Regions from separate parts of the Homo sapiens genome. Here regions 2 and 3 are each reported to be linked to region 1. The links are microRNA targets in miRTarBase. Many come from high-throughput screens and were not tested one by one. Region 1 holds a microRNA gene; each other region holds the end of a gene's coding sequence.
Evidence for each region. The annotated mature microRNA hsa-miR-6766-3p reads UGAUUGUCUUCCCCCACCCUCA and lies in region 1 at 2,093-2,114, opposite strand. An mRNA with a match to its seed (bases 2 to 7 or 8) in the 3' UTR can be bound and repressed. Matches are read on the target gene's strand: a 7mer-m8 pairs with bases 2 to 8, a 7mer-A1 pairs with bases 2 to 7 and ends in A, and an 8mer does both.

Region 2: miRTarBase lists NCMAP as a target of hsa-miR-6766-3p. The part of its 3' UTR that is shown has no 7-base or 8-base seed match.
Region 3: the mRNA of CLIP2 is a reported target of hsa-miR-6766-3p. Seed matches in the 3' UTR shown: 7mer-m8 at 2,528-2,534.

Annotation. Positions count from the first base shown.
Region 1 is chr15:89,324,650-89,327,649 of GRCh38, forward strand. MIR6766 (microRNA 6766) reads right to left here and starts at 2,161; the gene lies at 2,090-2,161. POLG (DNA polymerase gamma, catalytic subunit) reads right to left here. Exons shown (of 23, transcript NM_002693.3): 7 at 2,518-2,700; 8 at 2,263-2,414; 9 at 1,963-2,089; 10 at 801-1,037.
Region 2 is chr1:24,605,123-24,608,465 of GRCh38, forward strand. It overlaps NCMAP (non-compact myelin associated protein), which reads left to right. Exons shown (of 4, transcript NM_001010980.5): 4 at 484-3,343. The coding sequence ends at 625. Among named protein-coding and RNA genes, the nearest start is that of SRRM1, 37 kb to the right of the region's middle.
Region 3 is chr7:74,403,524-74,406,523 of GRCh38, reverse strand. It overlaps CLIP2 (CAP-Gly domain containing linker protein 2), which reads right to left. Exons shown (of 17, transcript NM_003388.5): 17 at 589-2,687. The coding sequence ends at 2,676. Among named protein-coding and RNA genes, the nearest start is that of GTF2IRD1, 49 kb to the left of the region's middle. RefSeq lists enhancers at 131-993, 994-1,858.

The DNA of each region.
Region 1 (3,000 bases):
AGGACTCTTAATTCTGGGCCACTGTAAGTTTCTCCCCAACACCTGCCTGCCTAAAGCTCAGGGTCTGTGATCTTAAGTCAACCAAGCCTTTGTCAACTACAACATGGGGATAACCATTCTAGCTCATGGGACTCCTTGGGGAACAAATAAGGGAAGCACTGCTTGGCCCATAATTATCACTCAAATTATATACACACACTTTTTTAAAAGCCCATCTCCCTGCTACTTGTAACAGCCCTCCGCATGTTCCTGTGAAGGCAGCTATGCTTCTGGGCCCAAGAGTAGGGCCTTTAGTCCTCCCCACTGTGAACATCTCAACATACTCCCTCCCAGAGCTCTGAGATCCAGAGGGTAAGGGTAGCCATGGAAGAAAAAACCTGAACCCAGAGAGTGAGTGAGTGAGTGAGAGAGTGAGTGAGTGAGTGAGTGAGTGAGAGAGTGAGTGAGTGAGAGAGTGAGAGAGAGTGAGTGAGTGAGTGAGAGAGTGAGTGAGAGAGTGAGTGAGTGAGTGAGTGAGTGAGAGAGTGAGAGAGTGAGTGAGTGAGAGAGTGAGTGAGAGAGTGAGTGAGTGAGAGAGTGAGTGAGAGAGTGAGTGAGTGAGAGAGAGAGTGAGTGAGTGAGTGAGAGAGAGAGAAAGAGAGAGAGAGAGGGTGTGTGTGTGTGTGTTAATTTTTTTCCTGTTTTCCCTTCTTCTGAACCCAGACTCTTGAACCCAAACTCTTTCCACTAGCCTGAGCTGACCAGCCAGGGGAAGGGGTCCCTAGGCTCCAGCCCCTTCCTCCCCTGGGCCTAAGCCTTACCTGTAGGGGCAGACCACCCCAGCTGACTCCAGGGTGGTACCTGTCGGCAGCTTGGCCAGGTTGTCCCGCCGCCCAGGCACCAAGTAGCCCCAGCCATGACGCTCTGAGTAGTGCAGAGGGAAGCCATCCCAGGTAAGTGCCATGAGTTTAGGTGTGACCCGCATCTGCAGGCTGAGGAGGCTGGGGCCCGGGGTCCATGCAGGGTCGTCTAGCCGGGGGCAGAGCTTCCGGTACCATCTACGTCCCAGCAGGAAGACAGCAGTGTCACGATGGTAAGGGCAGTTGTTGGGGGGAAGGTTCTCTCTCTCACAATGTCCCCACCCACCCTCCAAAGCCCTGGGGCTTTCTGGTGACCCCAGCCTACAGCCGCCATCCCCTCCTCTGGGATGCTTTAGCCAGGACCCCCATGGAATCCTCTAGAAGAATATTTCAAAAGCAAAGACACTAAGTCAGTCCCACTGGACTAGTCAGAAGCCAGGACACAAAAGCATACCCTGACCCAGGGCAGGGCTCCTTCCCAAGCTCCATTTCATCCAGGGTAACTGACCAGAGGAGGGAGCAGATCTGCCCTCCCCACCCCTCTAGAGAAACACCAGTCCTTCTGGGTGCTCTCTTGCAGGCTGTTCACCAGAGTTGAGCCCAGGGTGAGACTAGCAAGGCACTCAGGACACTTGCTCTCAGGGTCTTGCAGGTGCAAAGCTGGCACCCTGCTGCTCACCCTGGCTGCCCTTTTTCTCATCTCTGCCACCCTATGAGGCTCAAAGGAAGGGGCACCTTCTCAAGGAAGCCTTCTTGATTTATTTCCCGAGGCAGAGTCAGAACTCTACCTATGGACACTAGCTGCACTGGCTGGTCTACGTGCCTGGCTCCTCCTAGGAAAAAGAACTACTGGAAAGGAGGAGCTATGCTCCAGTGTGTACACCCGGTGGCTGCCACGGGCCATTGCACAGCAGGTGCTCACAACACTGTGCTGAATGAGTCCAGTGAGCCGGTCCAGAGTGAGCAAATGAGAATAGGACTGGAAGACAGTGTGACTGAATGGCAGCAGGTCAATAAGTATACATGTGCATGATGCCTCTGTGCCAGAACCCAGACCAGGGCTGTCCTGAGAATGGAGCAAGGGTAGACTCTAGATACACTGCTGGGGGTGGGCAGGGCTCACCCAGGGTGTCCAGGAAGGTGCTGGGGCCGCTTGGGCAGGAGCTCTGTGGTCCCCTTCAGCTTCTGCAAGCAGGCGCGGGCCATGACATCTTGTTGAAACTCCTCCTCCTCACTGCAGGGGCCGAGGTCTGTGAGGGTGGGGGAAGACAATCAGGAGCAGGAGAAGGAACTCTCAATAAGATCTGCTCCCACCCGCTCATCTCCAGAAGGCTGGAGCAATCCTTTCGAAGGACCCCCTCAATCACAGGACCTTCCCAGAGACAACCCCTACCCTACCCTACCTCCCACCCATGCTCCCCACCTTCCTGATCCATGGGATCACCAGGGGCCCCAGCCCCCTCGATGGGCAACTTGCTGGCTGTGGCTGGTTCCTTCTTCACCTTCTTAGCTTTCTTCTGCTTAAATTCTTGCAGGTCCCACTCCAGGTCCCAGAGCCAGGGGTCTTCTTTGTACCTACAGAGCCAGTCCACTAGGGCAGGGCTAAGGCTAAGCCGAAGGCTAGGCCGCCCACCTGCCAGTCCCCTGCCTAGATCCTGCCCACCCAAGGCCTGGCTACCTCTCTCCTGAGAGCAGCTGGCAGGCATCATTGGCCAGATCCATCAACGACTTCTTCATCTCCCGCTGGAGCTCCTCATAAGTGCCCTGTGCCTCTGCCAGGTAACGCTCCCAGTTCTGGTTGACAGGCAGGTAGGAGACACCCATCTCCAGCATGCCGGCCAGAGTCACTGGGTGGGGACACCTTGGAGGCAAACACCAGGAGCTGCCATAAATGACCACAGGAGGCAAGACTGGCCCAATCCCTGAGCTGGTTTAGCAAGCCTCAACCCAGCCACTGACATGGCACAGCTCAAAAGTCAGACGGCATTAAATCCCAGCTCTACTGTTACTCATCCCTGGGTAAGCAACCCCATCTCTCGGAGCCTCAGTTCTTTCATCTATAAAATGGGAACAATATCATCCCATCCTCAGGGGTAATGTGGGAAATATAGATGGCAAAAGTGAAAATGGCTGCCACACGTGGAGTAATGACTCTGTGCCA
Region 2 (3,343 bases), not on the chromosome of region 1:
GAAAAAAAAAAAGAATTAATAATTATTGTTCATTATTGAATTTTACGGCATATTAAATGAAGCCAAGATAAATGTTTTCAGTACATTCTCTTTTCAATTATGTAAAAAGTTCTTAAATATTTCTAGCAATAAACTTAGCAAGCATAATGAGGCTGGAAAATGTAATACATGCTACAACTTTGAACATAAAAAATGTAATATCTTTATTTTTATCTTTTATATAGCCACCTCTGACATCTTACTCATTCCTTAATAGAAACAAATAAAATTAAATATCTGATCTAAGTGAAAAAATTGAAGGGCAGACTAGCTGATGCCTAAGGTCACTTCCAGTTGTAAAATTCTGTGGTGGCAAGTAAGCAATGTGATTTAATGTCTACATTAATCTACATTAATCTGTTGGCCAGAACTGTAGTCGCAGAGCCCATTCCCCGCGGCATACCAGGGGAAAGACTCAACCATGTGCACATTATCTCCCTACAGGAAAATGAGGACGAGGCGGGAACTAGAGCCCAAGGGCCCCAAGCCAACCGCCCCTTCTGCCGTGGGCCCAAACAGCAACGGCAGCCAACACCCAGCAACTGTGACCTTCAGTCCTGTTGACGTCCAGGTGGAGACGCGATGACCTCTACCCTGGCGCTATCTCCACCACTGTCCAAAGAGCCTCTCCAGAGTCAAGACCCAGAGGCACACTCTCTGGCAGCTTCACAATGAGCTTCTTCTGGTCAGGTCGACAGAGACATCTTTGACGCAATCTCTGATGCTTCCAGCAATCCTCAACCTTGTCTGCCCTGCCCTACCCCAACTGTGTCCACATCCCTGCCGCCACCCCACCAAAAAGCTGCAGAACATTCTTTTGTCATCTGATGAGGTAGAGCTATGTTGGGAATCCACCAATGTGGGCTTGGCTTTCCCCCACACTGTAGTTAGACAGATAGACAGATAGCCCAGGAGCCAGGTGTCAGGGAGCACTGCTGAGAGTATCACAATAGGATCTGTCACGGGGTTCATATCAGATGAAGCGCCGTATCCACTGCTTCACAGAGCAAAACATTCAATCCCATAACCAGGCACAGGGGAACTAACTTGGACTAACTAACCAGAAAACCTTGTTAACGTATAACTTGTTCCAGTACTACATCTCTGCCTGCTGGCTCATGACAATTGCTCAGCACATTTTCCCCTCTTGAAGAAAGGTTGCAAGAAGAACTAAATTATCCTCAAAAGATTTCTGCTTCATTAGTAAAGAGTCAGTGATGGAATAGGGTGACTCTGCAGAATAGTGGCCTCTAGGGTAGGAGCTTGTTGTGTTGTCCGTGGGCCTGGAATGATCCTGGTGGCTGATCAGGGTCCTTCTCCCACTCTGGGCTGTATCAACCCTGACGGTCTTGGTCTTTGGCTCCCCTTTATCTGGATTCTGAGCACGCTGACTGTCCTGTTAATGCCTTCCCTCCAAGGACCAGTATTTGGAGATTAATTAGATTACAACTCTATCTATGTTACCTTTGTCCTTCCTGGTCACCTTGCAGATTCAAGACATGTTCAAAGCAACACATTCACAACCCATTTCTATTCTATAGCAACCTCGTCTGTGACTCCTTAGCCTGGAGAACAATCTACCAAGAAGAGAAAGTATCTGGAATTAAGAAGTCCTACCATCCAAGCCCTACTTCCTGGTTGTGTGGCCTTGGAAAAGTGACTCAACCTCTTTATATTCAGTTTCCTAACCATGAAGTGGAAATGATAACACCTGCCTCATTGGGGCACTATAACAAGTGAAGGACTTAGGAAAACATCTGGAGTATAGCGCCTGGCACCCAGGAGATGCTTAATAAATGGGAACCAGGATTCTTTTTCTTTTCTTTTTTCTTTTCTTTTTTTTTTTTTTTTGAGACAGAGCCTCAATCTGTCACCTGGGCTGGAGTGCAGTGGCACGCTCACAGCTCGCTGCAGCCTTGAACTCCTGGGCTCAAGGGATGCTCCCTCCTCAGCCTCCAGAGTAGCTGGGACTACAGGTATGTGTCACCTCACCAGGCTAATTTTTTTATTTTTTATTTTTGTAGAGATGGGGTCTCGCTGTGTTGCCCAGGCTGGTCTTGAACCCCTGGCCTCAAGTGATCCTTCTGCTTTGGCCTCCCAAAGTGCTGGGATTACAGGCATGGACTATGGTGCCCAGCCTAGGAGCCAACATTATTATTATTATAGGCTTTTTTTTCAATTGCAAGATAGACATTTCTTCACATTTTAATGATTCTGAAATCAGAACATATCTTGCAATTGATGGGTTCATTAATATAATTGTAGTTCTTTACTTCCTCTCAAAAACTTGTGATCTTATAATTGATGGCATCTTGGAAACAAGGTAATAAATCTCTATTCTGTTAAAGAAAGTGACACACTTTGACATTTAACCTCAAATTTTAGGAGTCTCTCCCTCTTGGGGTCAGAAATCCCTTCTGAGGCCAGGTGTCGTGGCTCATGCCTGTAATCCCAGCACTTTGGGAGGCTGAGGCAGGCGGGTCACTTGAGGTCAGGAGTTTGAGACCAGCCTGGCCAACATGGCAAAACCCTGTCTCTACTAATAATACAAAATTTAGCTGGGCATGGTGGCATGCACCTGTAATCCCACTACTAGGGAGGCTGTGGCATGAGAATCACTTGAACCTGGAAGGCAGAGGTTGCAGTGAGCCAAGATCGTGCCACTGCACTCCAGCCTGGGCAACAGAGTGAAACTGCATCTCAAAAAAAGAAAAATCCATTATGAGGGGAAATCAAGAGTCAGGGAGGTAAGAGGTCTTACCCAGGGTCACACAGCTCATGATATCCCACTGTAAAAATACTCTGTGGAATAGCTCTGGAGAAATACTGGCACATTCTTCCTCTCTGGTCATTATTTCTTCCTACTGTGTTTAAATATCCACCAAGTGTCAAGGACTTTGTAAGATGCTTTCACATAAATTATCTCATAGGATTAAATTTTCCCAAAAACCTGGGGAGGAATTATTTTTTCCAAAACAGATGATAATTTCTGATTCAAAGAGAAAGAAAACAAAGTACTTTTCCAAAGTCACACAGCTAGTAAGTCACAAAGACAAGACTCAAAACCAGGTCTCTTGACTCCAAAGTCTGTCTTTTTTGTGAAGTCACACTCCTCTGCTGGCCCAGCTCAAAGCAGCACAGATTCTTTATGGGCTGAACAAGGGGAGTACGGGTTTGTCCATGTGTTTGAGTAGAGATCAGGGTTCTGGCTTCCAGGCTGAAGGTGAGGGAAAAGCCACTTCTAACTCCTTTGGGCATCCATGCTCACGGCCAAAAGAGCCCCTTCTCAACACATCCAAGTGCT
Region 3 (3,000 bases), not on the chromosome of region 1:
AACCTGAAAGGCGGAGGTTGAAGTGAGCAGAGATCGTGACACTGCACTCCAGCCTGGGTGACAGAGTGAAACTCCATCTTGGGGAGAAAAAAAAAATTCTCATTCTCTCTTCCAGGGGGGCAACCTCCACTTGAAAGCCTATTTGACCACAAAGTTTGCAACACGTCGTGCTGTTGATCTGATCTCCGGAAAGCCTGCTGCGGGAACCGGAATTTGCCCACTGAAGCTGGAAACCGCCTCGGACTCATCACACGTGTGTGAGCGGATCCGTTACCGTTTCCATTGACTTTTTTTGCAGGTCTACTTATCCCTCCAGCAGGTTCAAATGTGAACCCAGGACCAGCCCTCTCTGGCAGCCTTTCTGGGTCTGTCCTCTGCCTGTCCTTGCTAAGGTGCCTCTCCTGGGACAAGGACAGCCCCAGATGTCTTCAGCTCCAGCCCCTCTGAGGCCGTGCCTACCTGGGAAGGAATGAGCTGGCAGAGGGCAGGATCGGGGGCCATCTCCTGGCACCAGGGTGCCCAAGAATTGGGAGAGATCGAGAAGCCCGGGGTCCCCACGGAGAGGAGGAGACAAGCCAACTGCCGGGGTCCTGGACCTGTCACAAGCTTTATTGTCCCGAGCACAGACTCGCCACACTTCAACAATTCCACTGTGGGGAGGGGAGGGGTGAATGAAGGACCTGGGGAGGGGACATGGCTGAGCCACACCCGGGCGGCCACACGGGGCGGGCTGAGAGGCCCACGGAGGCAGAAGCTCCCAAGGAAACCGCTTCTTGGACACCCGTCACCAGGAGCCCACCTCCGGGGGCTCAGCTCCTCCCGGCACCCTGCTAGATGGACCTCTGGCTGTTAGTAGACTAATCGGTGCCCCTACCGATGGGGCAGAGCTGCCTGATTTTGCTAGAAAGAGCTGTATTTGACCCTGGGTTAGGCCACTAAAGCATCGCTTCTAGACGGCTGTTAATAGAACTGCATGCGAGAGCTACCGAAAGCCAACAGGGACTGGGAGGGGGGCCGGGGGGACTGACTGTGACTCCCCGATGGGCTGCATTTGGGCAGGAACGTGAGCGCCACCTACCTGTACCAGGTGGCACTCATGAGGGCGATCTGGGCCGTTCCTATGAATTGCACACGTGTCCTGTGCGTTACGGGAAAGCCGGGATGGGGCATCGGGCTTCTCCCTCTGGTCCACTGATGGGGGAGGCCTCACAGGAAAACACTCCCTGAGCTGCCGGAGGGTGGGGCAGGGACCCCTGTGCTGATGCCGGGGTGCAAAGCTGTAAGCAACCTGTTGGTCCCCCAGCGGCGAGGTGGAGGCTGCAGGGCCAAGGCTGGCTTTTTCCACCACGCACAGGCCTGGGATAACTTAGCAGGCTTGAGGGGAAGATGGCAGGGCGAGGGGTTGGGGGAGCGCAGTTAGATTTCTCTTACCCCCAGCCCCCGTTAGGAGATGGGGCTGGAGACGCTCTGTGCAGGTGCCTGGCAAGACCAGGAAGGGATGCTCCATGTGGCAAACACACCCCTGAATGCCTGGCTGCGTGTACTTGGGTGTGTATACGCACCTCTAGGCTGTAGGAACGTTTGCAGTATCTGTAGGCACGGTCCTGCCAGGCCTGGGTCTCAGTCCCAGAAACCAAGTATGTGTCTCTGTGTGGCCTGAGCGTGGTTCACAGCAAACGCCGCCACCCACACGGTCATGCGTGCACACGTGGTCCCTCTGTGTGTGTGTGAACGTGGTGTGTACATAAGGACCCACTTAGCTGCATCTCCAGGTGGATGCAGATATTTTGGAACATCTGGTCAACCCCAGGGGAAACCGTATTACTGACCTTTGTCAAACCTGCCTAGAGCCTCCACTCTGAGCTGCCTCTGCCCTGGGCTCCGAGCCAGGGTTTGCCCAAGGTCACGGTGGGAGGTGAGGAGAGGGGTTTCCAAACCTTCATAATACTGTGTCTTTGGCCTTGGTGACATCTTCGGCCAGCAGCTTAGAGGTGTGTGTGTGTTGGTGTTGGTGGGCAGCGGGAGAAGGATCCCGTTCCCCTGCCCTCCGCCCCCGCCAACACCTTGAACCTGGGGGCCTCGCTGGGCAGGCAGGCTGGCTGAGGGGAGCTTGTACTACTGTTTGAAGAAGGTTCAGAAGGTGGGGACAAGAAGCCCTGGCGACTGCCTTGGCCTGGAAGTGGCTTCGGAAAAGGGGCCCCCACTTGGCTCTTAAAGACTGGATGCTCCCCCTTGGTGTCTGCATGGATAAACTTACCCCCTCCCCAGCCCCCGCCGGCCCCTCTGGGGAGACCCGAGGGAGAATGGGCGGAAAAAGAGGACAGGGCCGCTAAGATGGTCCTCAGGGCAGCTCCTTCTGGACAGAGGGGCCTGGCCGGATCCCCTCTGCCTCCACTGACAAACTCCAGAAGCTGCCGGGTGTCCAGGCTGAAGGTCCCCGGGTCAGGCCGGGGCTGTACCGTTCACACTCTCTGTAGAAGGCTGGGCTTGAGGAAGCGTCCTGGTCTGGCGAGGGATCGGGGTGGGGGATTGTCCGCGGCGGTGAGTACGTTATTGTTACAAACACTGTTTTGTCTCCAAAGTGACAGTCCCGGCTCCTGCCTGGAGGAGGTACTGCCGGGCAGCCGCGTGGGGCTCTGGTGTGGACTGGGCTGCTCCACAGTATCCCCTCAGGATCAGTGCTTGTCCTAGAGAGAGTAAAGGGCATCATCAGCAAGGGTCTCAGAGAGCCTGGAGGGCCAGGCGGCCAGAGGGGAGTCAGGGAGGAAAGGAGTTGGGGCCGGGTGGGGGAGGAGCATAGAGCGAACTGCATGTGCCAAGGCCCTGAGGCAGGAAGTGTCTCCCTGCTGTGTGTTTGTGGCTGTGTGAGACAGCAGGTGGGGTGGGAGGTGCTGATGGGAAGCGGAGCCGAGGGGAAGAAGCAGGTTTTTTGTTTGTTTGTGTGTTTGTTTGTTTTAAGACGGAGTCTTGCTCTGTCGCCAGGCTGGAGTGCAGTGGTCT